Homo sapiens: one gene and its partner. The protein of the gene in region 2 binds, or shares a complex with, the protein of the main gene of each other region. Each region holds a gene or a part of one and is shown on either strand. Other genes may lie near its edges. A codon is read from its position in the direction of its gene.

Evidence for each region.
Region 1: the proteins of PLXNC1 (region 2) and SEMA7A are in contact, whole or in part, in a crystal structure (PDB 3NVQ), measured with the Homo sapiens proteins. Residues at the interface, in NP_005752.1 of Homo sapiens: Arg131 (codon at 6,238), Thr151 (codon at 6,178), Glu152 (codon at 6,175), Val153 (codon at 6,172), Asn195 (codon at 6,046), Pro196 (codon at 6,043), Ala197 (codon at 6,040), Ala198 (codon at 6,037), Ser199 (codon at 6,034), Asp200 (codon at 6,031), His201 (codon at 6,028), Thr203 (codon at 6,022), Ala206 (codon at 6,013), Lys208 (codon at 6,007), Arg213 (codon at 5,992), Ser214 (codon at 5,989), Leu215 (codon at 5,986), Ala216 (codon at 5,983), Thr217 (codon at 5,980), Gln218 (codon at 5,977), Glu219 (codon at 5,974), Leu220 (codon at 5,971), Arg222 (codon at 5,965), Lys224 (codon at 5,959), Glu272 (codon at 5,815), Ala350 (codon at 5,581), Ser352 (codon at 5,575), His353 (codon at 5,572); in NP_003603.1 of Homo sapiens: Gln194, Tyr196, Asn197, Gly198, Lys199, Arg202, Arg204, Tyr213, Ser215, Asp216, Thr217, Gln270, Gly271, Gly272, Glu273, Ser274, Ser275, Leu276, Val278, Ser279, Lys280, Pro372, Thr375, Glu376, Phe378, Gln379, Asp382, Arg383.

The regions. Positions count from the first base shown.
Region 1 is NC_000015.10:74,427,834-74,443,624, reverse strand, and holds the start of SEMA7A (semaphorin-7A isoform 1 preproprotein), read left to right. Parts: upstream 1-9,666; 5' UTR 9,667-9,706; coding exon 9,707-9,884; intron 9,885-9,920; exon of another isoform or gene 9,921-10,035; intron 10,036-15,791. UniProt on the Homo sapiens protein: Plays an important role in integrin-mediated signaling and functions both in regulating cell migration and immune responses.
Region 2 is NC_000012.12:94,140,782-94,155,599, reverse strand, and holds the start of PLXNC1 (plexin-C1 precursor), read right to left. Parts: upstream 7,024-14,818; 5' UTR 6,629-7,023; coding exon 5,567-6,628; intron 1-5,566.

The DNA of each region.
Region 1 (15,791 bases), on a different chromosome or scaffold from region 2:
AGGGGTGGGGGTGTGAGGGTGAGGGAAAGCTTCATGGAGAAAGTGGCACTACGCTGAGACCTGAAGGGTAAGGGAGAATTGGGCACGAAGGTATATGTACTGAGGGGGCTGGGAGTGGGGAGCAAACCTGGCTTTTGTAGCCCTGTTTGTCAGGGTGGCTTGCAAGGCAAGTGGGTGGGCAGAGGCTAGATCATTTGAAGCTATGTAAGGAATTTAGACTTACCCTGGACAATGGGAGTCACAGAATGGCAATCGGGAGAGAGTCCAATGTGTGTTTTAGAAAGGTCATTCTGGCTGCTGTGTGGTGAGTATAGTGGGAGTAGAAGACTGAGGGAGGGCAGGCATGAGGAAGCCGGGGAGGAGGCTGTGGCAGTGATCCACTTAGAGCTGCTGGTAGGCTGACCTGACGGCGTGGCAGTGGGGAAGGAGAGGAGGAGGTAGAGAGGCTTTAGGAGTTAGAATTGATACCAGATCTTTGGGAAAGGCGAGTATACTGTTGTCTCCACTGAACAGATGGGGACACCAAGGTTCCAAGGGTTGAAATCATCTGCCCACAGTCTCATGGGCAGGAAGTGGACAAGTGGTCCCAGAAACTCAGGTCTGTCTTACTCCAGAGCTGGTGCCCTTCCTCCCACTGCCCTTGGCCTCTGAAGTGTGGAGGAATGGGAGATGATGAGGGCTTAGATCCGGCTGAGGAGCTAGGGCTTTATCCTGAGGGCAAAGAGCACCCCTGAGGCAGCTGCAGGCAGGGCAGTGGGGGACCAGATCTGTGTGTGAGATAATCTGACAGCTGTGTGGAGGCTGGATTTGTGGGAAGTGAGATGGGGTAGGCGACCAGCTAGGAGGCTGGCTGGATCCTCCAGATGGGACATGGAGGGGGCCTCAACTGGAGCTGCTGCAGGGGAGCTGGGTGGAGGGGAGCTGCTAGGTGTGAAGGACAGACTAGCTCTGGGGGCTGAAAGTGGGGAGGCAGGCAGGATGTGAGCAGGCGGATGGTGGTGCAGCAGTAAGAATAAGGGACTGGGGTGACAATTTGGAATGAGGTGCCATAGGACAGCCAGGTGGGGATGTGTATAATTAAAGACAGTTGGATGTCTTTGGGCTGAGGTAGTGATCAGGAAGTTCTAAGTTGAACACTGGGCCTGTGTCATGTGAGAAGGCAATTAAGCTTTTCAGAGAAAGGTAGAGGAAAAGGGATACCCACTAAGGAGTTCAGCTTTATAGAAAATGGTGACTGATAGATGTGAGGCATGGAACGGGCGCAGGATCTGCTGCTTCTGGGAAGGTGAGAGCAGGAGTCAGCAAAGCTGAGGGAGTGAAAGGACCTGGACAAAGAGGGCATGCTCAGTGGGGTCAGATGCCACAGACAAACCTAGTAACAGAAGGGCTGACCTTGGACTTGTTGACTTGTGCCTTGGTGACCTTGGGGAGACATTCCAATGGAACCGGAGCCAGATAGCAGGGGTTGAGGACTGAATAGGTGAGGGGCAGTGGATGCAGAGAGGGCAGGGGACCTTGCTTGTGAGGGAGAGGATAGTAGTTAGAGGAGAGATGGGATTGAGTGTGAGTTTTTGCAGTTCAGCAGAGGTGAAGTTGGAAGTGATCACAAGAACTTTTCTAGGAAGCTGAGGGAAAAAAAGGAAAAGACCCCAAAATAGAATATGCAAATATGTAGAGATGGGTGAGTTTTCTAACAGATCCGTTCTCCTGATATAACTCAAATTTGGCTGGGCTGGTATGGGCTGGGCTGGCACAGCTTGCTGGGCACATGGGCCCCAGATCTGCTCCTCGCCTCAGTCCCATCTGGCCTGGGCCCCAGACCAAGCTCACAGAGCCCTACCCTGAGGTGGCTTCTTGTTGCTGTTGCCACAGACTTTGGCCCTGGGTGTTTGTTGAGGATGTTGGGGAGTTTATTCAGGCCTCCCTCTTTCTGCTTACCCAGCCTCTCCAGCAGGTGGGGTCCCCTCTGGCCCTGGGCTGGGCTCAGGTCAGTTCAGCTGTGCCCCTAGTTCCTCTGGGCCTGGGCCTGTCTCGTTCTCATAGGCTCTGAGATCGCTGGGAATAGAATTCAACTTCTATGCTAGAAATGCTTTCGTGGCAACCCAGGCACTGGCCTACTCTATCTTGGCAAAACTAGCTAATATTAATAGTACATTACACAGCACAGTAGTGCTTATTTATCAAGCATCCTCTCTGTGCCAGGCATTGAGCTAGGCACTCACATGTGCCATCTTAGTTAATCCTCATAGCGACTCTGAAAACTAGATATTATTAGCCCCATGTACAGAGGAGTGCTTCCTGTATGCTGGGGAAGTGGCCTTTCTAGGGCTTGGGTGGGATTGTGTCAGCATGATTCCATCAGTGCACCCACCTGGGGCCTTGTGCCTGGCTGGCCGAAGGGTCTCCTAACCACTTACCTTTGGAGTGGCAGCTCAGGTCTTGGAGGGGACTTAGGCTTCTAAGTCAGATTGAGGTTTAGATTGCTTTTCCACATATGACCTAACTTCTTGGAGCGTCAGTTGTGCCTTGTTTGACGTTTTCCCTCAATTTCTATAAGTGGATATTGAGTATGTGTATCAGAGATGCCAGGCACTCAGAGCTGGGCCAGTGAATGTTCTAGATGGCATCAGGGCCCAGACAATGAAGTAACCCTAACAAGGACAGAAGCAAAGAAAGTCTAAGGTCCTGCAGTGGGGACCAGAAATTTTTTTTTTTTTTTTGAGACAGAGTTTCACTCTGTCACCCAGGCTGGAGTGCAGTGGTGCAATCTCGGCTCACGGCAACCTCTGCCTCCCGGGTTCACACCATTCTCCTGCCTCAGCCTCCTGAGTAGCTGGGACTACAGGTGCCCGCCACCACGCCCAGCTAATTTTTTGTATTTTCAGTAGAGATGGGGTTTCACCGTGTTAGCCAGGATGGTCTCGATCTCCTGACCTCGTGATCCGCCCACCTCGGCCTCCCAAAGTGCTGGGATTACAGGCATGAGCCACCGCGCCCGGCCAAGGGGGACCAGAAAATTAATTGCTCTTATGCAGAATCGAGTCTCATTTCTTCTCCTGGGCCCAGATTCAATAATCTTTCTCAAATGAGCATCCCAGAGAGCCACTACTGATGGTTGAGAATTGGCCCAGGGATAACCCTGGGCTGAGATCAAGAGGATTTAACAACGTGTTGTCTCAACCCATTAAGAGTGCCTTTAGAGGTGCTAGAATAAGGAGGAAGGAAGCTAGTCTTTCAGCCCTTTACTGCTCAGCCTCCACACTAGGTGTTGTGTTCTGATCTGAGGCCTGATCTTTGAAAGAGAGAGACACAATCTGGACTGTTTAGCACCTAGGAGGGGTCAGTAAAAGTTTGCTAAATGACGGACTGATCGTGTCTTAGAAATCAACCAGGATTAGAGAGCCTCTCAAGGAAAGCCCCATGAGGGATCTATTTGAAACTGGAGTTATTTACCCTGAATAAAGAGCCGATTTAGAAGGATGTGACCTCTGTGAAATCACTGAAGGGCCGTATTCCAGGAAGAGAGATTAGACATGTCCTTGTTGCCTCAGAGGGCAGATTTAGGACCACTGTTTGGGAGTCTTCCACTGGGGAAGAAAGCTCTGTGTCAGAGCTAAACAAGATGGGCAACGCTGGCTTGTGAGGGAGCTCATCATCACTGGAGGTATGTAAGCAGAACCTGCATGGCCACCATAAGGAGTCTTGTGAGTGGCTCTCAGGTAGGACTGAATCCCCTTTGACAGCTACTCCTAACTCCAGGAATTGAGATTCTTGGATCATTATATTCATGAAAGAAAGTGAACTGTTTGTGGGTAACCACCCTTTTGCATGTGTATCTCCTCACTGAAGTGGCCTCAGCAGGCCCAAGGATCACATCAGAGCTGGGAGGGTCCTGGGACATCTTCTCTCCTATAGACATCACTTTATTTTTATTTTATTTTAGTTTAGTTTAGTTTAGAGATGGAGTTTTGCTCTTGTTGCCCAGGCTGGAGTACAATGGTGCACTCTCGGCTCACTGTAACCTCCACCTCCTAGGTCAGGTGATTCTCCTGCCTCAGCCTCCTGAGTAACTGGGATTACAGGCACACAACACCATCCTCAGCTAATTTTTATATTTTTAGTAGGGACGGGGTTTCACCATGTTGGCCAGGCTGGTCTTGAATTTCTGACCTCAGGTGATCCACCTGCCTCGGCCTCCCAAAGTGCTGGGATTATAGGCGTGAGCCACCATGCCTGGCCGACATCATTTAAAAGCATATTTAATTCATCCTATAGAAGGAAATGCAGAAGATGGAATGAGAAAGCTTTGTCTCTCTCTGATACAGAGAGAAGATAGACCAGGAGAAGAGATGGAGTTTTAGCTCTTCTTTCTCATTTTGTACACAAAGAAACAGAGGCCTGGACTGGGTCAGGGCCTTGCTTGAGTCAGTATCCAGGCTGAGACTTCATCTTTGGCCTCCCAGCCATGTCTAGTCAGGAGATTTTGTTAGTCTAGATGGATTCTATGTGACATCCATGAGATTCTGCCCTGCCTCAGGCTTTGGACAGTGAGAATAGAGGCTCAGAGATGGATTAGGGGCATAGGAATGGGAGGGAGAAGTTTGTCTCCAGAAAGTCTGGGGAGTGTCTATCACAGAAAAGTGCATGTAGAATGTATGACTAGAACAGAGAGCAGAGATGCACTTGGTCTTTGCTAAGACTCGGCTCTGTTCCAGAGTGGCCACCAGGTGGCACTCCCACCACAAGCCCAGTGCCACGTTGGCCAAGTTTGGGGCTTGGGGCTAAGGATGTTGCTGATTTGTCTGTGGAAGGCACAGGACCTGTAGTGTTTTCAGGTGAGCTGAGTGCCCTGCTAGAAGGAAAAAAAATCTGTCTCTTCTCTGCTGACTGAATATTCCTCTTTGGATTTTTCCTTTGTCTTACTTAACTTGGCTGGCCCTACTTAGATCTTAGCAATTTAGGTAGGGTTGATCAGATAAAAATGCACGTAGAATGATTAGGATAGAAAGCAGAGATGTAGGCATGGGATGCTGCTGGGAGCACGACCCTCAGGGCTAAGAAGGTGGTGGCAGTTCTGAGAAGTTCTCCATTCACAGTGGGCTGAACTGATGTATGGAAGGTGGTGATCTCTGAACTGGTCTAGGAGGAAGAGGCAGGCACTTGAGGGGAATGTCCTGGCTGAGGTTTGGAGGCAGGCAGAGCACTGAGGGGAGGGTGAGGCATGGCCTGGGCAGCCTGAGAAGTGTCTTCTTGGCACTCCTTGCCTGACATGGTCTGCCAAGAGTTGGGCCAGGTATAGTGACTGTCGTGCCTGTGCCTGTGAGATAGTCACAGTGGGCACATGGTATGTTGGGGGTCCCAGATATGGGCCCCAGACCTGTTTTTATTTGCCCATATCCATCCTCCTTAACTTTTGAATTATTTGCCAATATTTTAAAAGAGAGAGTTTCAACAAAGAGTCAATTTTCTTTTCTTTTTTTTGATGGAGTCTCGCCCTGTCACCCAGGCTGGAGTGCAATGGCGCAATCTCAGCTCACTGCAACCTCCACCTCCCAGGTTCAAGTGATTCTCCTGCCTCAGCCTCCCAAGTAGCTGGGATTACAGTTGCGTGCCACCATGCCCGGCTAATGTTTACATTTTTAGTAGAAATGGGGTTTCACCATTTTGGCCAGGCTGGTCTCGAACTCCTGACCTTGTCAGATAAAAATGCATGTAGAATGATTAGGACAGAAATCATTGACCTTGTGATCCACCCACCTCGGTCTCCCAAAGTTCTGGGATTACAGCCGTGAGCCACCACCCCTGGCCTCTTTTTTCTTTTCTTTTCTTTTTTTTTTTTTTGAGACAGAGTTTCACTCTTGTGTCCCATGCTGGAGTGCAGTGGTGCGATCTTGGTTCACTGCAACCTCCGCCTCCTGGGTTTAAGTGATTTTCCTGCCTCAGCCTCCCAAGTAGCTGGAATTACAGGCGCTCGCTACCATGCCCGGCTAATTTTTGTATTTTTTAGTAGAGATGGGGTTTCACCATATTGTGCAGGCTGATCTTGAACTCCTGACCTCAGGTGATCCACCTGCCTTGGCCTCCCAAAGTGCTGGGATTACAGGCATGAGCCACCGTGCCCAGCCCTCAATTTTCAGCTTCTCTTGAAAATCATACTACCTTTCACTACTGGGTTTACTTCTTCATGGTTCCATGGGCTGGAGCTGAGTCGAAATTGCCTTATAGACAGCACAGGGTTCTGCAGACCCCAGCCCACCCACTCCCCTCGTTCTCATCAGTTCCAAGTCTCTGCCCCCTGCAATAGGTAGTAATGGTGGTAGGCAATAGGAATTGTTGCTGCTGTTAGTAGCCAGGAGGTCTGAATGGCCACCAAGCTCTGAGGCCTCAAAGAAGGGGTGGGATCTAGCATGGAGGGGGCTGTTGGGGATTGAATGCCCTCTGAGAGCTACTTCTAATCCTAAGAATTGGGATTCTTGGATCATCGTATCTGTGAAAGGAAGTGAACTGTGTGTGGGTGACCTCACGTCTGCATATGTTATCTCCTCACGGAATCCTTCTATCTCCCACAGGCCTCTTGTTTGAGGTGGGTCACTCCTGTGAAGGCCATGTGTAGCCATGGAATCAGGGCTGAGGAGGAGGTCAGATAACTCTGGAGAATGGAAGGATGAGTTAAGTTGGACCCTGAAAGGTGAGAGGCTTTAGTTGGAATGTTGGGGGGATTGCCCGGGGCTTCTGCCACTGCTTCAAGACCATGAATCTCAGGTCTGTGTGTATCCATTTCTTTCATTCCAAAAGGAGCCTTCTTGGATTGGGCTGTGCCTCAGCTGTCCATGGGGCTCAGGAAGTGATCCTTCTCAAGGTATTTTTCTTATCGATAGAAGCCCTGCATCATTTCTTCCTCCCTCCCCTGAATGTGGAATCATGGAGAAGGGAGGGACAAGAATGTGCCTCCCCATCAGACGTGTCAGCATCCACATGTGTTGCTTCCTCTGCTGGTCCACTTCCCATCACTGGCTGTGAGTGGGAATTGTGCCCCTGTTCTTGGTCCAGGCTCAAGAGCCAGCCTTGGCCTCCAATGAGGCAGGCAGGCCTCTGACACCACCTATACCATTCTGACTTGATTTTCCTATGCTGCCTGAGGCAGGAAAGTCCATGCCTAAACTCTGGTCATAGTGCCTGCCCCACAGTCTAGCTGCCTTTCCCTTTATAAAGTTATTGCCTCAAGTCATGGGCTTAGTTCTCTCCTCCCCTGGCTGCCTGCAGCCAACCGAGAGAGTGGGCTGCCATCTCGCCTGGCCCTTTGTCCCCAGGTTGGCTGGCTTGTGGGGAGGATGGTCTTAAGTACTACTTCCTTCCCCCCTACCCCCCAGTCTGGAAAAAAAATTATCTGGCATCTACCCCAGTTTCCATCTGCTACTCTGTTGATTGGGAGATTGAGCCCATTCCCTGGTCTGCCCTCCTACTCAGCACCTGGTGACCTGGGCCCTATCTAGGTCCTTCTGGGGATGGTTTGGACCCAGACTTCAGCCACAGACAGGAGGCAGCAGTGCCAGGGTACATCACACAGAGAGAAGTCAAGGGTGTGGGTCCTTGAGAAACCACCTGAGTTTCAATCCGTCCTGCCTCTAGTTGTGCGATCCTGGCACTTCACATCCCTTGTCTGTGCCTTGATTTCTTCATTTGTAAAGGGAGGTGACTAATAGCTCCTATCTCATAGGAGTGCGAAGATTGAATGAGTTGGGAGAGGCTATGAGATGGCACAGCACATAGGAACCACAGTGTTAGCAATTGTTATTGCAGTCAGAAAACCCATCTTCGTTCTACCATTTACCGGTTGACCTCGGGCAGGTCCGTCCTTGTCCCTCCCTGTACCTCAGTTTTCTTCTCTGCAGTGGAGTTACGCTCCCTCCCTCAGTGAGAGGAAGAGAGTGGAGGACTGGCAGAGATGAGGTAGGTGAATGTGGGTTATGTGTTGTGAGTTGCCATGCACATGGGCAGTGTTATCATTGATTTTGAATCCATTTGAATTCTTAGTTCCAAAAGGCAGAGACAGGTGATTTCTTAGTTTGCCCTAGCTTTGCATAGAGAGGACAGACACTGAGGGCAATACCTGTCTAGCAGGTGAAACCGAATGTCCATCTTAGAGGCTGGCCTGGGCCAGGCTCCACTGCTGGCTTCAGGGCCACAGGCTTAGGTGCAGGCCTGAGGAGGAGCTCTTAGACTGTCCACAGCCTCCCTCTCTGGGGCAGTGTGCCCCTGTGTATCAGGAGGCTGTTGGCTTCACCCAGTGGGCCAGGAACCTCACTCTGCACTGTCTCTGGAGGTACCTTGAGTTTACCTTCCTGGCCTGCTGGGGTGCCTCAGGACTCTGAGGGAAGAAGGAGGGGACAACTGGAAGCAAAATGTAGAATGGTAAAGCCAAACTTCTTGGTAGCAAAACTTTCCTGGTTCCAGGAGGTAAAAACAACAACCAAATGGTCCTGGCCCCATGGAGCAGGGCAGAGGGCAGAGGGCAGCCAGCCCACCGCCTTTGCTGGTGTCTGCAGTGCGTGAATCGTGTCTAGGTCTGTGAGTTCTGAAGGTTGGATGTTCACCTCTACTCCTTCCTCGGCCTGTCTCCTCTCAGTGCAGCTAGACATCCAGTAAACACTAGATAAGTACTTACTGAGCTGGGTGGATTTTCCATTCATGGTTCCCTGGGGCACAAGTGGAAGTGGTAGGTCTGGGCCCTGTCTGGTCTAGAGAGAGGAGACCCTTTTACAAAGGGCAGGCACGTAGTTCTGAGAGGAGGAGCTGATGGCAGAGCTGGCTGGACTGCTCAGGTAACTGCAGAGGGTCTGGGCCTGGACCCCCCAAGGGAGTCCCCACTGAATGGTCAGGTTGCCTGAGATAGCTGAGCCCTAGGCACTTTGCGGGCAGAGATCCCCTTAAGCTGCTTTGACCCTCCCTCCCCCACAGTGAGTGGGGCACGGGGGATGCTCCCCTCTCTACTTGGGGAAGGGGCCTTCCTAATTATATCCCCCTCCACTCACATGGAAATGAGTTTGGATTTTCTGAGCGTACACCAGCTGGCTTGGGGGGAGGCAGCCCAGAAGGCTGCTGGCTGGGAAAGGGAGGAGAAAGGAGAGGGAGGGGAAGGAGCCAGGCCAAGATGAAAAATTTCCAGTGTTCTCCCAGGCAAAGCAACAGCGGGTCCCTGAGTGCTCCCCACATATCATCGTTGTGCCTGCTGGTAGGCTCAGCAGGGAGCCGTGTCCACTTAGGCGAACGCATCCTCCGAGGACCATAGTCCTCAGGGTGCGAACCACTTAGCTGGCCATAGCAAGGTTGTTGGGTGTTGGACTCCTCTGCGCCCTTGGAGAGAGGTCCTCCACGACTTCTACGCCAATCTTTTTACGGGGTGCGGGGAGTGGAACTGAGGCCCAGAGAGGGGATAGGGCCTGCCGCCCCTGGCAGAAGACCACAAGTCTGGCTTGTCCGCAGCTGGGCTTTCCCCGTAGAGTTGCCCGGGAGAGGGTGGCGAAGGTTCCCCCAGCAGTTCCGCTCTCGCTCAGGAAAGCCAGTGAGGCGAGAAAAGGCTGCGAGGGGCGGGGGGAGGGGCGGGGTGGGGTCAGCGCTGGCTCCGCCTCCTGGCGCTTGGGTCTGCCTGCGGCCGGGCGCTGGCTCAGTCTCGGCTGATTGCCGCTGTCGCTCCCGGGGCCACGGGATGACGCCTCCTCCGCCCGGACGTGCCGCCCCCAGCGCACCGCGCGCCCGCGTCCCTGGCCCGCCGGCTCGGTTGGGGCTTCCGCTGCGGCTGCGGCTGCTGCTGCTGCTCTGGGCGGCCGCCGCCTCCGCCCAGGGCCACCTAAGGAGCGGACCCCGCATCTTCGCCGTCTGGAAAGGTAGGCGGCGCCGCGCGGCCGGTCAGGCGCGGGATCAGACGCTGCGCGGGGCGGGTGCGGAGTGTGCTGCACCCGGAGGGAGTGCGTGCGCGCAGCTCTGCGGGTCCCGGGCTGTCCCCGCGCTGTCCCCGCGTGGAGCGTGTGGGTTTGGGTGAGTGTGTGTGAGTGTACACGCTGGCACACCAGAGCCGGCTGTAACGCTGCGGCGAGCGAGCGGCGGGGGCCGGAGCCCCGGCTAAGTCGCACCAAGTCCCTGGCAGCCAGGAGCCGCAACGCCCGGGCGCCAGGGGAGGGGGCGGGCCCCTCTCTCGGCCCCGAGCCACTCTGGGTCCTCTGGCTCGGGGGCTTCGGCGGAGGACCTTTCCCCGCCTGGGACCCCAACCCGGGTACCCTCCTTTTGAGCTGCGGGCTCTGCTGGCGCGCGGGGCGCAGGCTGGGCCGGCAAGGGGGGCGCGGACCCCTTGCCGCCGCCGCCGCGCTTCGGCAGCGGGAACAAAGACCCCGCCGCCTGCCCCCGCCCCCGCCCCGGCCCGGAGCTCGGGCCAGGCAAGGGGGTGGGCATCCTGCAGCGAGCGGCGGGACATGGTGCGGTGCGGCGGCTTGGGGTACCAGGGCGCTGCCTCAGCAATGCCGGGACCGGCCGCTCCCCCCTTGCCCGCACGTGGCAGTTGTCACCAGAAATCGGCTCCAGCGTTGGGGGGCAGTGCCCGTTGGGTGGGGCACGGCCGTTGGGACCCCCAGGCGGTGGATCTAGGGCGGGGGTGCAGCCTTTAGGCCAGGGTAGATAATAAGAACCTGGGGGACTGGAGTCTCCCCCAGGGCACCTCAGTTTAGACCCTGTACTATGGGACAGAAAGCCGGTTAGGCGGGGGTTTGAGGCTTTCTGCCGCGAGGAACTGATCTCCCCTCCCCTGCATTGCACACAAATGCCTCCCCGCCCCCAGTCCGATTCGGCTCTGTCCCCAAATTTGGCGTGTCTGCGGCCCCCCTGTCGTGATGGTGGGGGACTCGCAGTGGGGGCTGGGGGAACTGGTCGGGTCTGGCCCCACCGGGAGCCTTTTGATGCCTTTGGCAGTTTGCAGGGATTGCGGGAGTCTGAGCATTATCTGGGGCAGGTATTATTAGCAGAGGGGAAAAAAAACCATACACAAAACGAGTGGCCCGAACTGCCGCAGTAGCTGAGGGAATGTGACTTGCCCAAGGTCACTGAGCAGTGTGGGAGCCCAGGTGCAGGCAGGGGCTCTGATCTGGCACAGGACCAGTCCAGGTTCTGGGTTAGGGAGGGGAGAAGGATTTAGGTGGTTCAGGGACCATGAATGAGGTGCTCTGGGGACCAGCTCGGCTACCCAGCCTGAGGTGCTCCTGGAGGAAGCCGAGCAGTGCTGCTAGAGCTCCGGCCGCCTGTACATGGAGGAGGCCTGCACACCCCTCTGCCATCCCAGCTCCAGCCCAAGCTTCCTTTGCCCTCCCAGCAGCTTTGCCTTCCCTCAGTCTCCTTGGCTGTCTTGGACATCATAGCGTGTGGGCACTCTGGAGGGGACAAATGGCCACATCTGAGTGTTCTGGAATCTTTCCCTCCATCAAACCCCTTGCATTTTGACTCTGTTTGCCTGTCCCAAAGTCTTCCCATGACCCCCCACCCCCACCCCACTTAATGCACACCCACTTCTTAGCACTTAATGCATACATCCCATCCTGGGCACTTAGTTCCCACCCTGAGGCTATTTAAAGTTGCTTTCAGTCCTCTTACCCACTTTTCGAAGCTCCCAGCACAGCTCCATGGCCTACCCCCCCGCCCGCAGTTCACTGCTGTAGCCACACTGGCTGTGCCCTCTGCTTAGTAATGCACTGTTGAGCCCCGCTGGCTGGGGTCTGCCAACCGTTCACCAGTCTTGTCCAACGACAGTCTGTGGTCTCCTTCACCAGTGCCAGGTGCCCCACTGGCCAGACAGGCCCTGCCATTCACCTGCCCCCCACCCCCAGGGCCACCAGCTGGTGATGGTGTGCCCGACTGACAGCTGCCTCCTGTCTCCTGTGGGGTGACACATGGCAATCGGACAGGAATGGGCTTGGGTAGGACAAACCCAGGAACAGGGTAAGAGGGGGTCTTTCTGGAAGCCTAGAGCTCTGTCTACCAGTGGTGGGTGGGAGTATGGTGGTATCCAGGAATGACAAAATCAGGGATGGTGGTGGTTCTGGAGCCATTTCTCTATGAGGCATAGATGGGGGTTTTAGTTTTGAGTCAGGACAGCTGTGGGGACTGGAATAGGTATGGAAAGTTCTTTATTTTCTGCTGCTTGGATCCCCAAGTTCTAGAGAAAGATTAAAGCAGGGAACTCTGAGAGGGGCCCAGCCTGCACTGATCAGGGAGATTGCTGCCTCTGCAGCTTGATGAAAGTCTGGCACAGCGTAGCTCAGGCCAGGGAGAGAGATGGGCCATCATGTACCTGCTGGGTGTCCTTGAGCTCCACACTTGTCTTTGACCCTTAGAGCCTGCCAGAGCAAGAAAGGCTGTAGGGATTGTCCCCCAAGGGCTGTCACTGACACATGGGCCAGTCAAGGATGTGCATGTGTGGTCCTGATCTTCCTGTAAGCAGGAACTGTAAGGGAGTAGATTGCAGGTGAGGGCTGGGGCTTAGCAGGAGGTTGGCATGCGTTTGTAAGCTGTGCACCCCTCTTCCATTTTATCAGTGGTTGGAGGAGCTAAAGAAGGCTTGGAACCCCAAGGTCAGAGGTGAACCAGCCTGTCCATGGGGAAACAGAACCCATATCCCCAGTCTCAACCTGCCCGGCTGGTTCTGCCCTCCCTCGCTTTTGTCCAGTGAAACAACGGGATGTTATTGTTGACTTGGTGGCTGCTGGGGAGCCATTCTGGGGCTGCTCCCCAGGGCAGGAGGTTGTTGTTACCTCCTCCAGGGGATGAGGTCACATCTGGGGCTTCCCAAGCATCAGCATTTCCAGTGGAAATCCTTGCCCCCTTGGGGACTTAGATGTGTTCATCACCTTCAAGGTGAACTCCCTCCACAGAGTCTCATGGTGGGGGGGCAATTCCCCGGAGGAGAGGGGGAGTTTCCTAAGCCAAGAGAGATGCTTGGTGAGGTCACCAGGAGCTTCCTACCAAGCTCTGTGACCCCTCTGTCCTGGACAGTGAAGATTCTGAGAGCAGGTCCGGTGGAATGGACGCTGGCACAGGTCCAATGATGACCATGGTATAGGGGAGAGAGCTGGGAGGTCGGGAGCCTGGTTCAGGCTGTGACCTAATTTGCTCTGTGACTGGGCAAGTCTTTGCCTTTTACTGAACCCCAGTTTCCCCAAATGCCCAAAGAGGGTAGGGGAGGGGGCTCATCCTTTTCTGAGATTTAATGTCTTAGGATTTCTCTCTCTCTGGGATGGGAGGGGCTGGGCAGAGTCTGTGGTGGCCTGTTTAAATCTTAGATTTCGAGAAATCTGGAGGAGAAATTGAAACCTGGGAAGTCAGGGGAAACCCTTAAGTTCGCGTTCTTTCCTATCTTTTTCTCTCGTGGGCCAAAGGCTGAGGATCATTTGGAGGAAATGGATCATCAGCATGTGCCCTCAAGGGTGGACATATTCATTCAGCAAACATTTGCCGGGGCCACCCTTGTGCTGGTCTTGGGGATGAGCTTGGGGATCTGGTGATGAGGAACAAGATGATTCCGTGCCCTTGTAGACTTCTCAGTGTAGATGTAGATGGGCAGATAAACCTGCAGGTACAACAGAATGTGTAACAGAGAGCAGTTATGGGCACTGAGGAGATGCCTAACCCAATTTTCCCAATCAGGGAGGGCTTCCTGGAAGAGGGAGCAAGCTGAAATGGCAGGAGGAGGAGCCAGCTGGGGGAGGGAAGGAACAGGAGGAAGCACCCCACTTAGTAGGATTTTAAACCCAAGAACTTACAGCTAGGACCACAGAGAGGAGAGAAGCCATGTGAGGGGCCCCCATGTGAAGAGGCGTTGAGTCAGCCTGGGCCTGGGGGCTCCCGAAAAGTTTGAAACTTGTCCAGATGGGCATAGGTGAGGGGATACCTGTCATCCTATGACTGGCGCAGCAGTGAGGAGGAAGGACGCACCCACTGGAGAAGGGCCGTGGCAGGCAGGGAAGGCCTCTCGAGTGCTGGCAAGGCCATAGCCCCGTCACAGTTCCCTGGTGGGAGGCTGGCTCTGGGTCCAGGGAGACCATGGCTTTCCCCATTGACTCCTGACCGCAGGACAGTCTCCAGGTGAGAAGGTCTGTCCCTCAGCTCTGTCTTCTCCTGCTCTTCCTCTGCAGAGATGGAAGGAGCATGGAGGTGGCAGGGTGGGGGTGGCATGGATAGGTCACTATCTGGGCTGAGGGTGGCGCCCTGGGGGAAGCAGGGAAAGCTGGGCTCTGTTTTTTGAGGAGGGCCAAGCAAGGTGGGATGTGAAGCTCAGCCCAGGGGGCAGGTCTGGCAGCCCTCAGGGGGCAGTAGCTGGAGTAGATGGGCCACTAGCTGATAGCCTGTCCACCCCCAGCTTCACACGGCTCTGTCACAAGAGACTGACTGCACTTCCCCTGCTTTGGTCGGCAGCTCTGGACTGAAAAGTTTCCACTTCTCTTGATTTCCTTTTTTGGCCCAGCGTGGCTGCCCCAGGAGCCTTCCTTCGCCATGGTTGGGGGAGGAAGGGGCCCTTAACCTGTCCTGCCTTCAGAAGAGCCAGGGTTCCGTACCCTTGCAGGGAGGGCCAGCCACCAGGTGTATGGCCAGCTGTCCTGTCCTCAGGGAACCAGGCAGGCCAGAAAGAAAGCAGGGGGATGGAGGGCCACGGCACCTTGTTGGGCCCTGCCTCCTCAGAGGACAGAGTTCCCCCTTCCCTAGCCAGCCAGGCCTTGAGGGACTGTCCCCTCTCTGCCCCGAATGGTATGGGGTGGCTCTCCAAGCCCTTTATTCTCCCTGGCCCTGGCCTTGCCATCTCTCCAGATCTGTGCCCAGCCTCCCGGAGGACCTCTGTCCCTATGCTGCACCCCATCCAGAACACATGGCACACAGCTGCCGCCTTCCCCAGGCCCTGCATGGTGGCCTGGCCCCACTGCCTCCTAGACTCCCACAGTTCTTCCCTCACTGCTCCCTGGCTCCGCCTCCTCTCTGCACCCCACTCACCCTCCTCCTCCTTTCTGCCCAGAAAGGAGGCTGCTGGTTCTTTCTCAGTTCCTCTGAGGAACCTTCTTGGATGACCCCAACCCACACAGCCTGACAGCGCGAGCTTAGGATGTCAGAAAAGAAATGTCAGAGATTAGCTGGGCCAGCCAAACATTCCACAGATGGGGAAACTGAGGCTCAGAGATGACAGGGACTGGCCCGAGATCACCCAAAGAGGCAGAGCTGGGACCGGGGCTGAGTCGTCTGAGCCTGCTTCTGCCCCAGCTCTCAGCCTGTTTCCAGCTTTCTGTCTGCCATCATACTCTGTCCCAGGCTGGGGGCCCCTTCAGTGCCTTTCCTCCTCTGCTAGCCCAGTTGGGCCCAGACTCTTCCCGCCCCAGTGCTGTCTGTTCCCAGGAGCCACACCAGCTGTGAGTGTCCTCTCTTCAGGACCTTGGATTTGGACCAGCTCCATATACCTCTTCTGGTCTTTCCTCAGGTGGGTTGGGCCTCAGGTCCCAAGGACAGGTTGATCTGTGTCCCGGCTCGGGCTAATCAGGTTTTAACTGTCATGACAGCCTGGGATTATGCTGATCCTGCCATGCCTTCTGCACCCCATGCTTCCAGCCAGAGGCTTGGGCTCTGTGCCAGCACCCCTGGGTGACCCCTCATCATGGAGGGCAGCCAGCCTAGGTCTGTGTTCGGCTCCTCTGGGGGAGAGGCAGGAAGAGAAGCCCTGGGTTTGCCCTTGGGGAGCCCCCACATTCCTGGAGAGGTGAGTCTTCTGCCTG
Region 2 (14,818 bases):
ATCAGTGAGGAGGGAATAAGGAATATCAGGTGGTAAAATGTGTTGGTTACTTTTTATGGCCCTAAGTAAAATGCAAGGGGAAAAAAAATGCGACAAGTTCCTATCCTAGGTGCCTCAGTTGGAACACAAGGAAAATTGTTTTATCTTACAATAGTGGTTCTTAAACCTAAGCATGACTTCAAATCACGTTGAGAGCTTGCTAAAATACAGATTGCCAGTCCCACCCCAACCTCCAGAGCTTCTGATTTAGTAAGTCTGGTGTAGGGTCCAAGAATGTGCATTTCTAGCAAGTTCCCAGGTGATATTCATGCTGCTGGGCCACAGTCCACACTTTAAGGACCACTGCCTACAGCATAAAGCCCTTTCCTCTCATAGTTGAAAGGCAATCAAAAATTACACCATAGAAGTTCCAACCATGCTAGGTTTCCATGGTCAAAAGTAACTCTCAGATTGGCAACACCAGAAGCCTGGTATTCCAATGAATGGAAGTACCTGGGAAGAGGTGAAGGAGTAAAGGACACCATGTAACCTAAAACTAAGGAAGGAAGGGGCCCTGACACATCAGGCATTAAGAAAAAGACAATGATTAAGGGAGTATGAGGTGACCAGACTCCCAGAAAGTGTTGCTGCTGAGTAGAGAAAACATTTCCAACATGATTCTCTACGATCCTTCATTTATTCATTCAACAAATATTTCTGAAGTCCCAACTACATACTGGGTACTATGCTAGGTATGGGGGGTTCAACAGAGAACACCCTTTGAGATGATGTATAGATCAGAACACCAACACTGTCTAGAAGTTCACAGTTAAGAAACTACAATCCTGCCAGAGTCAGAACTTCAGGTGGTCACCAATGCAAACCTAGAAACTCAGCTCATAACTAAGGATTCTCTGCTATCCTATGCCTGTGTCCACAAAAAGCTGGTCTTAGCATAGCAGTTGCAAGGGCTTAGCTTGCTCCATACAGGTTAGGGTTGACATCAGGACCTAATGTCCATGCTGACAGACTGTCCATGGCAGTGGACATGTACACATTATTGCATGTAGTAATTATTTAACCCTTCGTGCTTTGGTTTCTTTATTTATAAGTGGGGAATCCCATTTCCTTGACAGCAATATTCTCTGGATTCATGAGTTAATGTGTATAGAATAAGCACTACTTGACCCATAGAAAATGCCGTGTGCTTTGGATGTCTTTACTATCATCACCATCATGATTATTAATAGTAATAGGGTAGGGCTCCTTAATATAGACTTGTAAGGTGGCTAAAAGCTCAGGTCGTAGAGCTGGACCACCCAGGTTCTAAATCCTCTGCTATTTTCCAGCTATGGAACCTAACAGAAGCTCTCTGGGCCTTAATTTTCTCATCTCTAATCATCATGATAACTACAGTCCTTGCCCCATATGGTGAATGAGAATCAACAGAAAATAAGGCATGTAAATTGCTTCACACAAAACCTGGCCATAATAACTATTCAGTAGATAGTAGCTATGATTGCTTTCCCCTCTTTCTAAGTGGGTGCTGTCATGGCAATTGTCCTTTTTGAATCCATTTTTGCATATAATATGTGTATATGAGGGTAAAATCACCATCTAGTCTATAGACTGCAAAATGGCTTGACAAAATCATAACAGAAGCTGGAAGAGAAATAAACATCACAAGAAGACTGCGGATTTTGAGGTCAATAGGCTGCATCGCCAAGTGGAACTGGGATGTCACTTCTCCACACATGTTCCTTGGGTTGCTCTCTGTTGGGCAGCATGTGAGCATTCTGTGGTTGTCTGCATGACAGTTAAATTATGTCAGGCTTTAGAATTATGTAGGCGTGGAAGAAGGCGGTATGTCCCCCTACAAAGGGTAGAATGAACTAGAGAACAAACTAGAATGATCTAGAGTCCTGTGGACCAATACTGCAGGAAAACGTACTACCCTCAATGTCTACCGAGGGGTGGCTGCCATGTTTAAACCACGAGTGACCCCAGAACCCAACAATGGTGGCCAAACAAGTCTGGAGCAATCAGACTCCACAAACTCGAACACAAACACTTTCTGTGTATCACGTTGGTGTGCCAGGGGTAGTGAGAGTTCAGAAAGGTAGGAAGTCAAATTGATTAACTTGTGCATAATTAAAAACATTCATTTTTATACTAATCCAAGCACAGGTGTGTTATAAAAAAGAATGAAAAAAAGGAAAGAGACCACATGAAGTTCTAAAACACAAGCCAAGATTAGAGGCATGTACTGCCTTCTGAGGTTACCCTCTAGCCTCAACCCCACATCCTAGGGGAGGTTGTTTGCTGCCAATTTAATTAGGGGACCTTCAAGGGAAAGTTCGAGAAACCCTGGGGTGGTGGGAAGAGTAGAGATGTAGACATTGGAAGACCTGGATTTAAGGTGGAGGGCTTTGGCACTTAACTATCTTGAGCAAGCTGCTTAACGGATCTTTAGCCTCCTCATCTGGAAAATGAAATCATCCCCATAGAATCAACCTCAGACTTGATGCGGGGCTCAAAAGAAATAATACATGTGGAAGTGCTGTACAAATATCACAGAAGATTATTAGAGAGAGGGTCTACAGAAATCGGTTGCCTTAGCACATTTGAGAGCTGCAGTTAACCTGCTACAGTTATGAAAGTGGATTCAAAGTTGGTGGCAAGGCAGAAAAAGTAATGGTCCAGTGTGTAAACAGCTGAGTACACACTCATTACACAAGCATCTCGTAAATCACTGCTTAGCAGAAGCTGAAGGAGAGGAGGATCAGTGACAAGAGATAAGAGAACCAGAAAGTGGGAAAATACAACCCAGTCAGTCCTGTCACTTTTCTACCTATGGCTGATTGAAGACGGAAAATAAGAGCCAGCTAGGAGGAGAGGGAGAAAGAAGGCAAGCAAATCCAGCCGCTTGTGCCTTGCAGCCTGTGGATTACTGTTAAAATTACTGTGTCTGCTCTAAAGGAATTGCTGTTGGAATCTATTGAGGTTCCCTCTAGAGTGTTTCAAGTCCTGCTCCTGTTTTAGGCACCTATAATTCAGCATGCCTTTTCAAAAACACATTCAAGACCTGAAAATAAAATGCAGAACAAATGCAATCAAATGACATCATTCTTCTGAGTGACAGCCAGGGGCACACTGATCCCATGACCCCATTACACAAGGTTGCAATCTGCTATCGTCCTTTCAGTGGCAAAATCAGTGGCACCCAGCACAGAGCATTGCTTACACTAGCAGGCATCAAACAAATATTTGTTGAATTGAGTATCTTCTCTACCTATTTAATAGGTTAGAAAATTGTCAGCTTTTTCATCAAAACTACCACCCTTTTTCATTCAAACTCCTCTTGAAATTCAATTCCATTAAGGCTTTTCAATGCATACTAGCAGCAAGGAATTTACTTAAATGAAAAAAAAATGCAAAGCTCCAAGCTCCCACCTGTGCAGCCATGACATGCTATTGTTTGAACCAGAGTATATTATTTAACTTGGCTGACAAGCTCAGGGGGTACAGACCCTGTCTTTCAGAACACACAGCTCTGAGCACACTGGGAGTTCTTGATAAATAGCAGCAAGAAATGCTGTGGAGGGACCCATTTTAATTATTTATTTTTCCAGTTCCAGATTTTTGGCAGCATGTGTTTATCCTTTGCTTGATTTCCAAGGGGCAGCTCTCTCGCAGAAGCTCCGCGACTTCCTCTGCCACTGCCCCTCCCCATCCCGGCACAAGCAGGAACACCTGATTGAGCCAAAACGTGGATTTTGAGTGCATTCAAGATGCTGGCTGGGTTTGGAAGGGAACTGAGTCTTCCAGGACCCAATAGGTAGAGAGACGCAGTCAAGAGAAATGTTTTGGCTCCACACATCGACACAGCTGTCAGATGGCAAAGCTTGGACTTTCACCCTCATTACCTGCTGTGGGCCTCTGAGCTGGCTTGTCATTAACCCCAGAGACTAAGTGTGTCTAAAGCTTGACACAAAGTAATATTTCGGGGGTACTTTCAAGTCTTTCAACAGAGAAGTAGGAAACGATAATTTTACCAAACTTAAACCGTTAGATTATAAAGATCTAATAAAGACAGGAATCAAATATTACATTATATGTGTACGGCAACAGCAAGTCATTTAGGAGGCAAATATGTGTTTTTACATATTTTTAAAAATTATACCAGTAACAAAATGAAGGCCTTAATGTGTGTGTCCCAGCACACAGCTTGACAGGCAAAGAAGCAGCAGCAAGTGACCGTTCTAAGAAGCCTTGCAAAAGACCTCCTGGTTTTTTTCTCCCTGGCTCATAGGGCTAATATTTGGTAAGATGTGCTTTGCAGAGAAAGAAGGGGGTGGGGGAAGCTGTCTTTCTATACACATATTAATATACCTGGGAGCCAACGTGCCCCTGTATCAACACATTTTCCAAGCAGTGACTTCTCCCCTTCCTCTCTGATTCATTTTGTACCAAAACAATGGCAACACCTGTAGCCGTTAATTTCTGCGCTTTGATTTTTGTCCAGTTATAAAGGAGGCTCCCAGCAGGCTCCCCTCTCAGGAGCCATATGTGGAGTTGATGTGCCAGCCGCCTTGGAAGGGAAACGGCCTCCGGAGAAGTGCACAATGGCTCCATAATCCCCATCAACTGGACCCTCTTGAACTGCCTCTTTATTTTCCAGTCAAAGAAATGCCAATCTCAAGATAAAAGCTGTGGCTGCCCTGGGAGCCCAGGGGAAACCTGTATCGCTTGCCTGGTTCAGCCCCAGGGTGGTGACTCTGAGTCCCGCCATCTAGTCTCGCAATCTGGAGCCCAGAAACTGCCTGTAGCACCCCCAACACTTTCCCTTGCACTCCCCTCTAGGATGAGGCTTTTACCACAAGGCCACCTCCCGCCCAGCCTCTCCCGGCGGCTGGCGACCACAGCGCACCCTGAGCAGAGCCACGGCACCGCCCCCTCGCACCGGCTCACGCCAGGGGTTCGGTTCCAGCGCAAGCCTCTGTTGCAGGCTGGCATTTCTCCACGCTGAGCGGGCTAGCAACTCTTCAGACCACAGCACTTGCGTTGCCGGTGGGGGGCGGAGACAGGGGGCCACAAAGGCTGGGGTGTGGCAGGGAGCCCTTTAGGTTCAATGGCTTCTCTGCCGAGGGCACTGTGTTGCTAACTGTTGACCAAGAGGGTCAGACCCACACGCCTGCTGGGACTACACGGAAGGGGCACAGAGAAGTCTGGAGAAGCGAATGGGAAAGAGGGGCTGCGCGAGGAGACTCAGCCCCAAACAAGCGTCCCCGTTTGGACAGGGAAGGATGGCAATGGGATGCAGCCACTAGAGTTTTGAGTCTAACTCCAACCCTCCCCGCCCCCCTTTTTACACTCTCCCTTTGGGGACCTCAGGCCGTGCTCCAGGTCTCGGGGACCGTCCGAGAGGAGCCTTCGGACGGCCGCCCGCGGTGTGAACCTGAGACCTGGTAAATGTCACCCGGCTGTACCCCCGCCCCGCCGCTCGCCCCCAGCTCGTTCTGCCTCGGCGGCGGCGGCGGCTCCCCGGCAGCAGCGCTCTCCGCGGCGCCCCGGGGGCAGGACTTACGCAGTGGCTCTCGGCCGTCTTGAAGTCCCAGCTGACCCTCTTGGCGCGCGCCTGGATCTCACTCATTCTGAAGAGGCAGAGCGCCGTGGTGGTGGGGGAGCGCCGCTCCTGGCCCTCTCCAGCGGCCGCGCTGAACACTCCCGCCCAGACGTCCAGGGCCTCCACTAGGCTGGAGGAGAGGAGCAGGCGGCGGCCGTCGGGGTGGCCGTGGCCGCAGTCGAGGGATGCCTGGCCCTGGAACAGCACCTCGGTGCTCTGCGCGATGCGCGCCATGCTGGGCCAGCCGGTGGCAGCGCCGCTCGTGTAGTTGTAGGGGTAGTAGGGGAAGTAGATGCTGCCGTTCCAGAGAAAGGCGTCCACGAAGTGCAGGCTGCCCGCGCCCTCGCACAGCTTGAGGCGCCCCAGCTCCTGCGTGGCCAGGCTGCGCCCCTCCGTGTCCTTGAGCGCGATGGCCGTGTCGTGGTCGGATGCCGCGGGGTTGCAGCGGCTCGCCGTCTCCGGCTCAGGCAGCACGTAGGTGGCGGCCACCGCCAGGTACCAGCGGTTGTTCCGGCCCGCGCGGTACACCACGCCGGCCGTCGAGCCCTGCGGGTGGCACGACACCACCTCGGTGCCGTTGCGCAGGGAGTTGCGGCTCAGGTTGCCCAGGGGCCGCACCTCGCAGGCGCCCCGGTCGAAGGTCCAGCCGGTGAGCAGCAGCCCCCCGAGGCCGGCCGCCCCCTCGCGGTAGGGCAGCAGCAGCTTGCTGAAGCTGCTCCCGGGCCGGGGCCGCGCGGGGGGCGCCAGCGAGACCGGCTCTGTGCAGTTGCCCGCTTGGTCCCGGTACAGGCGCGAGAGGCTGTGCTCCAGGCTGTAGTCCAGCTGGTCCAGGCAGCTGCCGCTCGCCACAAACACGCCGTCCTCCTGGCTCGCCGCGATGGCTCCGATGGCTTGCTCCGACCGCCACACGGGCTCGTCCGCGCCCCGGCCGGGAGCCGCCAGTGCCAGCAGATAGGCGAGCAGGGGCAGTGGCGCTGCGGGGCGCGGGGGGCGCGGCGGCGCCTTCCTCCGGGAGACCTCCATGGGGCTGGGGGGGCCGCCCCCGGGCAGGGCGCGCGGCGGCGACGGCGGCTCAGGCGCGCGGCAACGGAGACGCGGGCGGCGGCGGCGGCGGTTCCTGCGCGCGCTCGGGCTCCCGCGGCCGCCCCATCCCCGCAGCTCGCCCAGGAAGGAGAGCGGGGAGGGCGGCGCGCGGCAGGCTCGCTCCGGCAGCCTGTGCAGCGGCGGTGGCGGCAGCAAGCCCTGCGCGCTCCGGCACCGTTTCCTCCTCGCCCTCCTTCGCCGGAGAGTTCCTGTGTGCAGCGCTGGCGCTCGCGGGGAGGCGCGGAGGGGAAGGGAGGGGACGGGCGGAGAGGAGCGAGGCGGGCGGGGAGGGCTGGAGAGGTTGGGTGCGCTTGTGCGTTTCACTTTCCCATTGTGAAAGTGGGATGCAACTGGCCCCCTTCCTCATCCTCTCTTCCTCCTCCGCCCTCCGCCTCCTGCCCGCCCGCCCGCCCTCCCTCCACGCCCATCTCCCCTCCCCTCTTGATTCGGTGAGATAGGGAGGAGGGAGGTCTCGTAATTTGGGTTACTGTGTAGGTGGCCTCTTTCATCTATTCATAACAAAGCTCAGCCGCCCGCCGCGGCCGCCGCGGCCGCCACCATCGCCCCCTTGGCTCGCCTGGGGCTCCCGGGGCGCGCTAACGGCGCACGGAGCGGGCTCCCGCGCCCGTCCGCCCGCGGTGCTGCTCCAACGCCCGGTTTTGTTTACGACAGCAGCCGGGTCGGGGATACGCCAGGCGCGCGGAGCGAGGATCCAGGGTGCGAAGGGGTTGCAGCTGAGGCCCCGGGCTCGGGCCACAGGGCTGCTGCGAGAGCGGCTGACAGGTGTGGAGCGGCGAGAGGGAGGCCCCGGGGAGGCGCGCGGGAGACATGGCCGAGCCGGAGACTCCGGGGACCAAGGCGCCCCTGTGACAGGGTGTGGGTTTCCCCGGGTCGGATGAGTGAGGTGGCAGAAAGGCAGGCGCCACACTCTCGTTCTGGACAATCCCCAGGGCCGGAGCGCCCATATTTGCAAAGGTTCTCTAATCTCCCTTGGCAACAGAGTCCCAGGCTCTCAAGCCTAGCACTTGGAAAGTTCTGCTCACCATCTAACCTAATGAGCGGGGCTAACATTTACTGAGCACTTACTACGTGCCGGGTGCGCTTGTGAACTCACCACATGGGTTAAGACTCATAATTCTCATAACAGCCCTATTAATTAGTGACTGTTATTGTCATCCCTACTTAGTAGTCCAGGAGAATGGTTATAGAAAGGTTGTGGAACGTGCTGGCATTCTACTGCTGGTAGATATCAGAGCCGAGATTCGAATCCATATCTAGCCCCAGGGCCTCTTACATACCTGGCTCTAGTTAAGTGCCACCTGTGGCCATTGCCATAATCCCCCAGAGATCATTCTCTGTAGTGAGACTGAAAAGTTCCTCAAGTTAAATGCACCAACCAGCCCCCGCCCTGCTTTCTACTATTAGACCCAAGTCCCCGTATTTCCCTCGAGGCTCTCCATCTGTCTCATCATTACCCACTTTTATCCTTTGGACCCCCTGAGGTCTCACCACCTCACCCAGAGGGTGAATAACAGCTGGGTTGCCCCCACAGCCGCCAAGAATTTCTGAAGCACAGGGAATCATTGCCCACTGGGGAATAGGTTCATGATTTCTCGGAATGGGGCTTCCCAGAGGATGCACAAATGCCTCCCAGCTTCCCGGGGCAGCTGCGGGCACCATCAGCACCCTTACAGTCTGGCAGATGAGCCAGGGGGTGCATAGGAGTGGAGGGTGCTGAGGACCTCTATGGATCGTTGGGAAATGATCTCTGTTCCTTCCCAGGCTATTTCCAGACCCCAGGCCCCAGGGAGGGCAATTGGCTGCTATCCCCTTTCTTCCTTCCCTCCAAGTTCCCCAGCTCGAGATGCTGTTTTGGGAAGGGAAAGGAATGAGGTGGCTTTTGTCCCATGCTGAGTCCTGCCGAAGGTTGCAGGTTTCAAACTTCTCCAACAGTGCTTCAAGTTCTCCCCAGTGCTGAGGGATATGGCAGGAGTTCTGGAAGGCTTAAGGAAAGAAGGGTGAGGTGGAGGGAGAAGAAGAGAAGTGTGAGTTTCTGCTCTAGATGTGAAGTTCAAGGATCCTATCATTTCAGCAGTGGCTCTCATACACTAAAGTCAGAGTGGTCATCTTTTCATTCATAAGCCTTTCATTTGCAATTGGATAACATTATCTTTGCCTGGCAGGAGGCAGAAAATGCCTTCCCACGAGATATGAGGTTGCCCTTTGTGCTGTGATGATGGTGTTGGAGTGTCCATAAGGAGAGGGGAGGAAGAAGGGGAAAGGCCTAAAGTACCCAGTTGGTGTTAATCGGGACATCTCAGGCAAGACAAGTCAGATGTTTCACCTGCTCCAAAATATCTGGCCTTGCTCCCCCACTCCCTGCCCTCCTGGAATGCTTTCAGAATTTTTGCACCTCTGGAAGTGGGAAGATCAATATTTTAAAAACCTCATCCGAAGCTCAGAGACCCCCTCCACAGCATAGTAGGGGATTTATGCGCTGGTGTTTTGACAGTTTTCCCTGTGACTGATGCAGAACTCAGTGACCTTCACTGGCTCCGTGAACCAGCGGTGGCAGTGTCGCTATGTGCTGAGAAGCAACAGTTCAATTCCATTCCAGAGATAGTTTTACTTCACTGGTAACCAAGTCATTTCTCTAAGTCCCGTAGAGTTGGTACAATCAGTCACAGACCATCTTGGGAGCTATTTGGATTAAACATACTCTGTGGTGCGGCATTTTGATCACTACTCAGTTCATTGCTGCTTCATTTTGAAAAAGAAACAACATCTTAAAAATACTACCCACAAGAAGTATAAATGGCTTTGATGGCTACAGTTCCCTGCCATTCTACTGGGACCATAAGCCCCACTCTTAAGAGTGGGCTTCTTTTGCCTCCCATTTAATTGTATGCAGACTCCTACGGTGAAAGAAATCAGAATCTGTGCTAACTTTTTGGCATGAAAAACGTAGGCGACGAGGAAGCATATAAATGCATTCTTTGCTGATTCTACCCCCATTTTGTACAAACATGTTTGCCCCTTCCCAATTTTCTTGTGTACTAAAGCTCCACCTTCAGGACACAAGTTCACATTTGAAAAGTGTGGGAAATACGAACAACTGAAATAAATATTTAGGCATGCGGGTTCTGTATCTCTTTGATCACTTTCTCTTGGACACCACCGTCTGGCCCAGGGGTGCAAGTCCCTTTGGTGACAAAGCTTCCCTCTCCAACTGGCCGAGCCCATCTTGTTGGGTGTCACTTATAGCACATTTCGGAACTCCTTGTAACACAACTGGCTGAAACCCAAAAAAAAAAAAAAAAAAAAGAAGATGGTGCAGATTTATCCTCCAGACAGAGGCCTGCTACCACGGAAACAGGCAGTTCAGACCGATTCTGAGCAGTTTTATTTGCAGCGTTCACTAGATGGGAAAGTCTTCATAATGAGAAAATATCAAGTCCCTCAGGCACCGAAGGCAATCTGGGTTAACCAGGCCATCCACAATCAGACTCATTTCTGGTGGACAGGACTTTATAGATTCAGTGGTTTCCTGCTGGGGCCCAGGACATTAAGAACTGTTCAGTAGGCAATTGGTCACAGTCACAAGATGGCTATCATTGGTGCTTCAGTTTTCTTTCTGATTTTCTTTCTTTTTTTTTTTTTTTTTCATCTGACAGTGGTCTGTAGCATGACTTGGCTGGCAGAGATTGAAAGCAACTGAGAATATTTGTTCTGGTGGTCAGTGAATTCTCTCTAAGCCTCATCTACATAGCTACAACCCCCTGTGCAGAATTTGGAAATACCACCCAGTGGGTGGAATAGTACCTGTATTGTCCTCTTAGGTTTTAAGCAGACCACTTCTTCCTCCACAGTTTTGCTGATATCTATGTGGTCTTCCACATCGAGGCCCTTATCAAAGCTCCCAGGCCCTTTTGGTGGCTGACAGGAAAAAGAAATGAGCCAGTCTTCTTTCTAGTCTGCTGATGAGTAGATGGTTGAAAAAAGATTAGAGGAAGAGCTGTTTAATAAGTTCGCATTGGTGCTGAGAGATGAGTTGGACACAGTTCAATCAACATGAAAAGTCTCTCTGACATGGCACAGTTAAGACGTGGCTGAAGGAACTCAGTGCCTCATCCTCTCTGCCCACCCAACATGGCCCCAGACGATTGCTGGGCATTCTTATGCTTGGTGATAGTGCCCCCATGCCATGGTTTAAAGTGAGGAAGGCTTGTGGTGTTCCTTCAGTAGGTGGGACTTGGGGGTCACTCCCAACATTACAGTTGTCATCTTTTTCTTTGTCATGATTTAATAGCTCATGGTCATTCGCCAGCAGAGTGCAAATGTACACTGGAGGGTGGAGTGGAACGTACAAGAAAATGACTCTTTACTCAAAGTCCAATGACTGTCTTTAAGCTAAATAAGAGCATTCACTCTGCTTTAGGGAGGGATGAGCTATTGCCTAAAAAGACATAACATAGCATAGCATAGCATAGCATAGCATAGCATAGCATAGCATAGCATAGCATAGCATAGCATAGCATAGCATAGCATGCCATAGCATAATATAATGTCAGATATGTTTAAGAGACTGCGAAGTCTAGGACATCACCTTAGCATTCTAGCACCACACTTCTCAGAGAGTATGTTTAGTGTCATGAAGTTTCTCTCGAGCCTTTTCTCCAAAACATTCACCAAAACCATCAGTGGTTAAGAATCTGAGACAATTACTGGTTGAAAGCAAAGTATGGTAAATCATCAACCATCACAGTGTTTTTCTAGACCGGCTGGAGTTCACCCTGCATGAAGTATGCGAACTCATCAGTTAATTACTTCTTCAGATTTGGGGAATCTCTGTAACTTGAGCAGTCTCTTGAAAATCAAGCTTTTCTCTGATATTCACAGGATTCCAGTCTGTCTCTCCTTGTATTTTCCTTGCTGTTCTTCGGAAATAGGAAGCCAAAAGGGCATCAAGGACTAGACACAAAACGCTGATTCCTCTTTAATACAACGTTGTTTCCCGTGTCTTTGCCCTCCCATCACAGCTCTGAGACTCGCTGTCAGCATAATCCTAGGCTCTGAATCCTCTGATAACTGGCAGCTTGGCATAAACCCATTCTAAGAGAAGAGCTGCCAGAAACCAGGCCTTCTTATTAATAATAACTCCAACTCTTGAAATGAATAGCAGAAGATAAGATAAACACGCAGATAACTTCACAGCCACTTGTACTTCCGCTTCCTTGAGATTCTGGTGGGGAGATGCTCTGAGCTGACAATAAAGTTGCTGGACTTCGCAGTGAGCCCTCTAGTGCTCTCCACCAAGCTGGTGTGGCTTCTCATTCTTATGTCCTTGCCACTCCCTAGAAAATAGCCCCACCAAGGTCGGGAGGAAGCAACCAATATCAGCTCTGAGCATGGGCTCTTGCGGTCGGGCAGTTTGGCGTATGGCCCCAGGGTGGGGGCAGCCCCACTCATCACCCATCCTGGGGAAGCCCTGGGAATATGGCAGTCCAAACAGCATCTCTCAGGCACTCATCCCCACGCACAGAATCCCAAATGCAAAGTTCATGGAAGACCGAGTGTTTGCCTCGCTCTCCTGCCCCTATTTTTTTTTTTTTTACAAAGCCTTCATTGAAGTATGACTGTCATACAAAAATCCATACCTATTTATTATATACAACATGTTGTGCTTGGAGATAAGTCTACACCCTTGAAACCATCACCGCAATCTCTTTCACCCCTTCCCTAGTCCTTCCTATTTAGTTCTTCTTCCCCGTCTGTGTTGAATAGTCTCTTCTTCTCCCTGCAGACCATTTCCCCACTGCTCCCCCTTTTGCTTGAGACCCAGAAGTTTGACATTTATGGACATCACCCTTGCCTTTTGGCTTCTCGTTGGATTCAGCCAATGGGAAGCCCCAGCCAGAGATCTAGGGGTGGACAGCTAGGGTGAAGTTTGAATATTTATTCTCCCAGCTCCCTCTCTGCTGATCTATGCATTGGCCATGGCTGTGTCCCTCTACAAGGCCACAGCTCCTGTGGGCTGTCCTCTCTCACAGCTACACTGTAGCCACAGCCTTTCGTGGACCCAGTAACCACTCCCTCACCCTCCTCCTCAGGCCTGTGGGATTCCATGGTTGTCGCTGTGGCTAGCCTCTGCTGGTCTCCCTTCATCCTGGCATGGCTCGGCCATGGTCCCTCAATTAATGTATCTGTTTGCATGTGTCACCTGTTTCCTGCCAGAATCATAACTAACAAACCAATCTACCTCCAAACATGGATCTAGAGGTGACCCCAAATGATGTTTAAACCTGTACATTCACTTTGTCCACTGATGGAAAGCAGAAAGGCTGCTAGTCAAAATGGAACTCCTTTGTTTCCAAATGGTTGGTTCCCCTGAATCTGGCAATGGAAAAAAAGCTACATTTTTATTCCCTTTGCACAGGCTTTCCTACACTAAATTCAACCCGGTGATACAGACAGATGGAAACCTGGCTGGGCAGGATTTTTTTTTTTTTCAGTTAAAACATAAAACTAAAAGAATCTTAAAAGTAAATCAGAACTACTGGGGACTAAGGGTTCAGAAGGTGGTGGGGGCAGAGGGTGGTTATGATCTCTAAAATTCTGCTGAACGTTTGAAATATATTTTCAAACAAGATACAAAACCAAGCATGCCGCTTTTTCCTTTTAAGACATTTCTCCTTAAGTCTGAACTCCAGCTGTCCCTTCAATAAAGTTGAGAAATTCCATTGATATTCATTATTACCAAAGCAGGATTATTAAGAGATTGCTATACTTCCTCATCTCCAGACCTCACCCTATGTCGCCCCCTACTAATAATGAAGAGATAACTTGGATGTTTTTGGTTCCTTTATACTCAAGGAAACCTATGTAGTAGAGACAGGAACCCTCTAAAGATGCTACTTTTTTTTTTAGAAGGTTTTTCTTTTTTAACTTTTAAAACATGTTGAAAAGTAAATCCATGTCTGCATAAGTTCCCAACCCACATTTCTCCAAGCTTCTGGAAGGTGGGCCTGGTGGGCACCCTCAGCTCCTTAGTGTTTCCCAGCTGGCCCCTGAAGACAGAACTTCCCTTCCAGCCTCTGCTGCTGTAAGGCCCCTCTGCCACCTCCCCCTGCAGCCTCCCTTCCCACCTCACCCAAGACTGATTGCTAAAAGAAGGGAAGAGGAATGAGAACAGCCAGCACACCCAACTGTCCTGTCCCACCCCCACGCTAAGGTCCCTACCCCCGACACACAAAGGGCAGGGCCCAGAGACCAAGCCCCAGCCAACTAGGAGGCAGCCATTCCAGTCCCAGCAAGGAAGCGAAAGTGCCCTCAGTCCAGCTCAAAGGCCCCTGAGCCCGGGCCATGGCCCCAAGAGACAGGCCCAGCTGCCAGGAACACATGCAGAACCCACAGGTCCAGGCTGGGCTGTCGGCAGCTCTGGGTCTTGGAAAGACCTGGCAAGAGCCCTAGCCCCTTCCGTCCTCAGTGACACCAGAGATGCCTGGGGATGGCCAGCAAAGAGGTCCTGGAGCCTGTGGTTGGTGGAGGACCTCAGGATTCAGAGTGAGGGCACTGGGGGCTCCAATCAGGGTGGGTAGGGGCGGAGGGCCAGGACAGGCAGCCAGAGCGGGGAGGATGAGAGGTGGTGGGCGCTGGTTGGGGGCCAACCAGGGCTGGAGGAAGCGGCCCTGCTGCACTGTGGGTGGCTGTCAGAGCAGAGTGGGAGCCGTGGGCAAAGGTGGCCTCAGCAGCAGGGGGCACCTAGGGCAGGGAGGTGGGAGGTGGAACGGGGGTGGTGCAGGGGGGCACCGATCGGGACACAGACATGGAGATCGATGTAATCTGGACCTCATGATCTTCTTCTTGGGCTGGGGCTAGCAAGGGAGCCCCTCTCCTAGCCTCCTCCACGGGGACTGTGGCTCCACGGGCCCCATCCTGCTCAGCCTCCCATTCCTGCAGCACCTCCTCCAGATTGAAGCAGTGCCAATAGCTCACAAAGAAGGTCTTCACCTGGGTCAGAGTCTTGTTCCCAATCACCTCTGCAATAGCCCCAAAGTCTGCCATACCTCCGGATGGCTTAGGCAGCCAAAAGCTGCTCCTCTGTGGTCCAGCAGGAGTTGAACTTAGTGT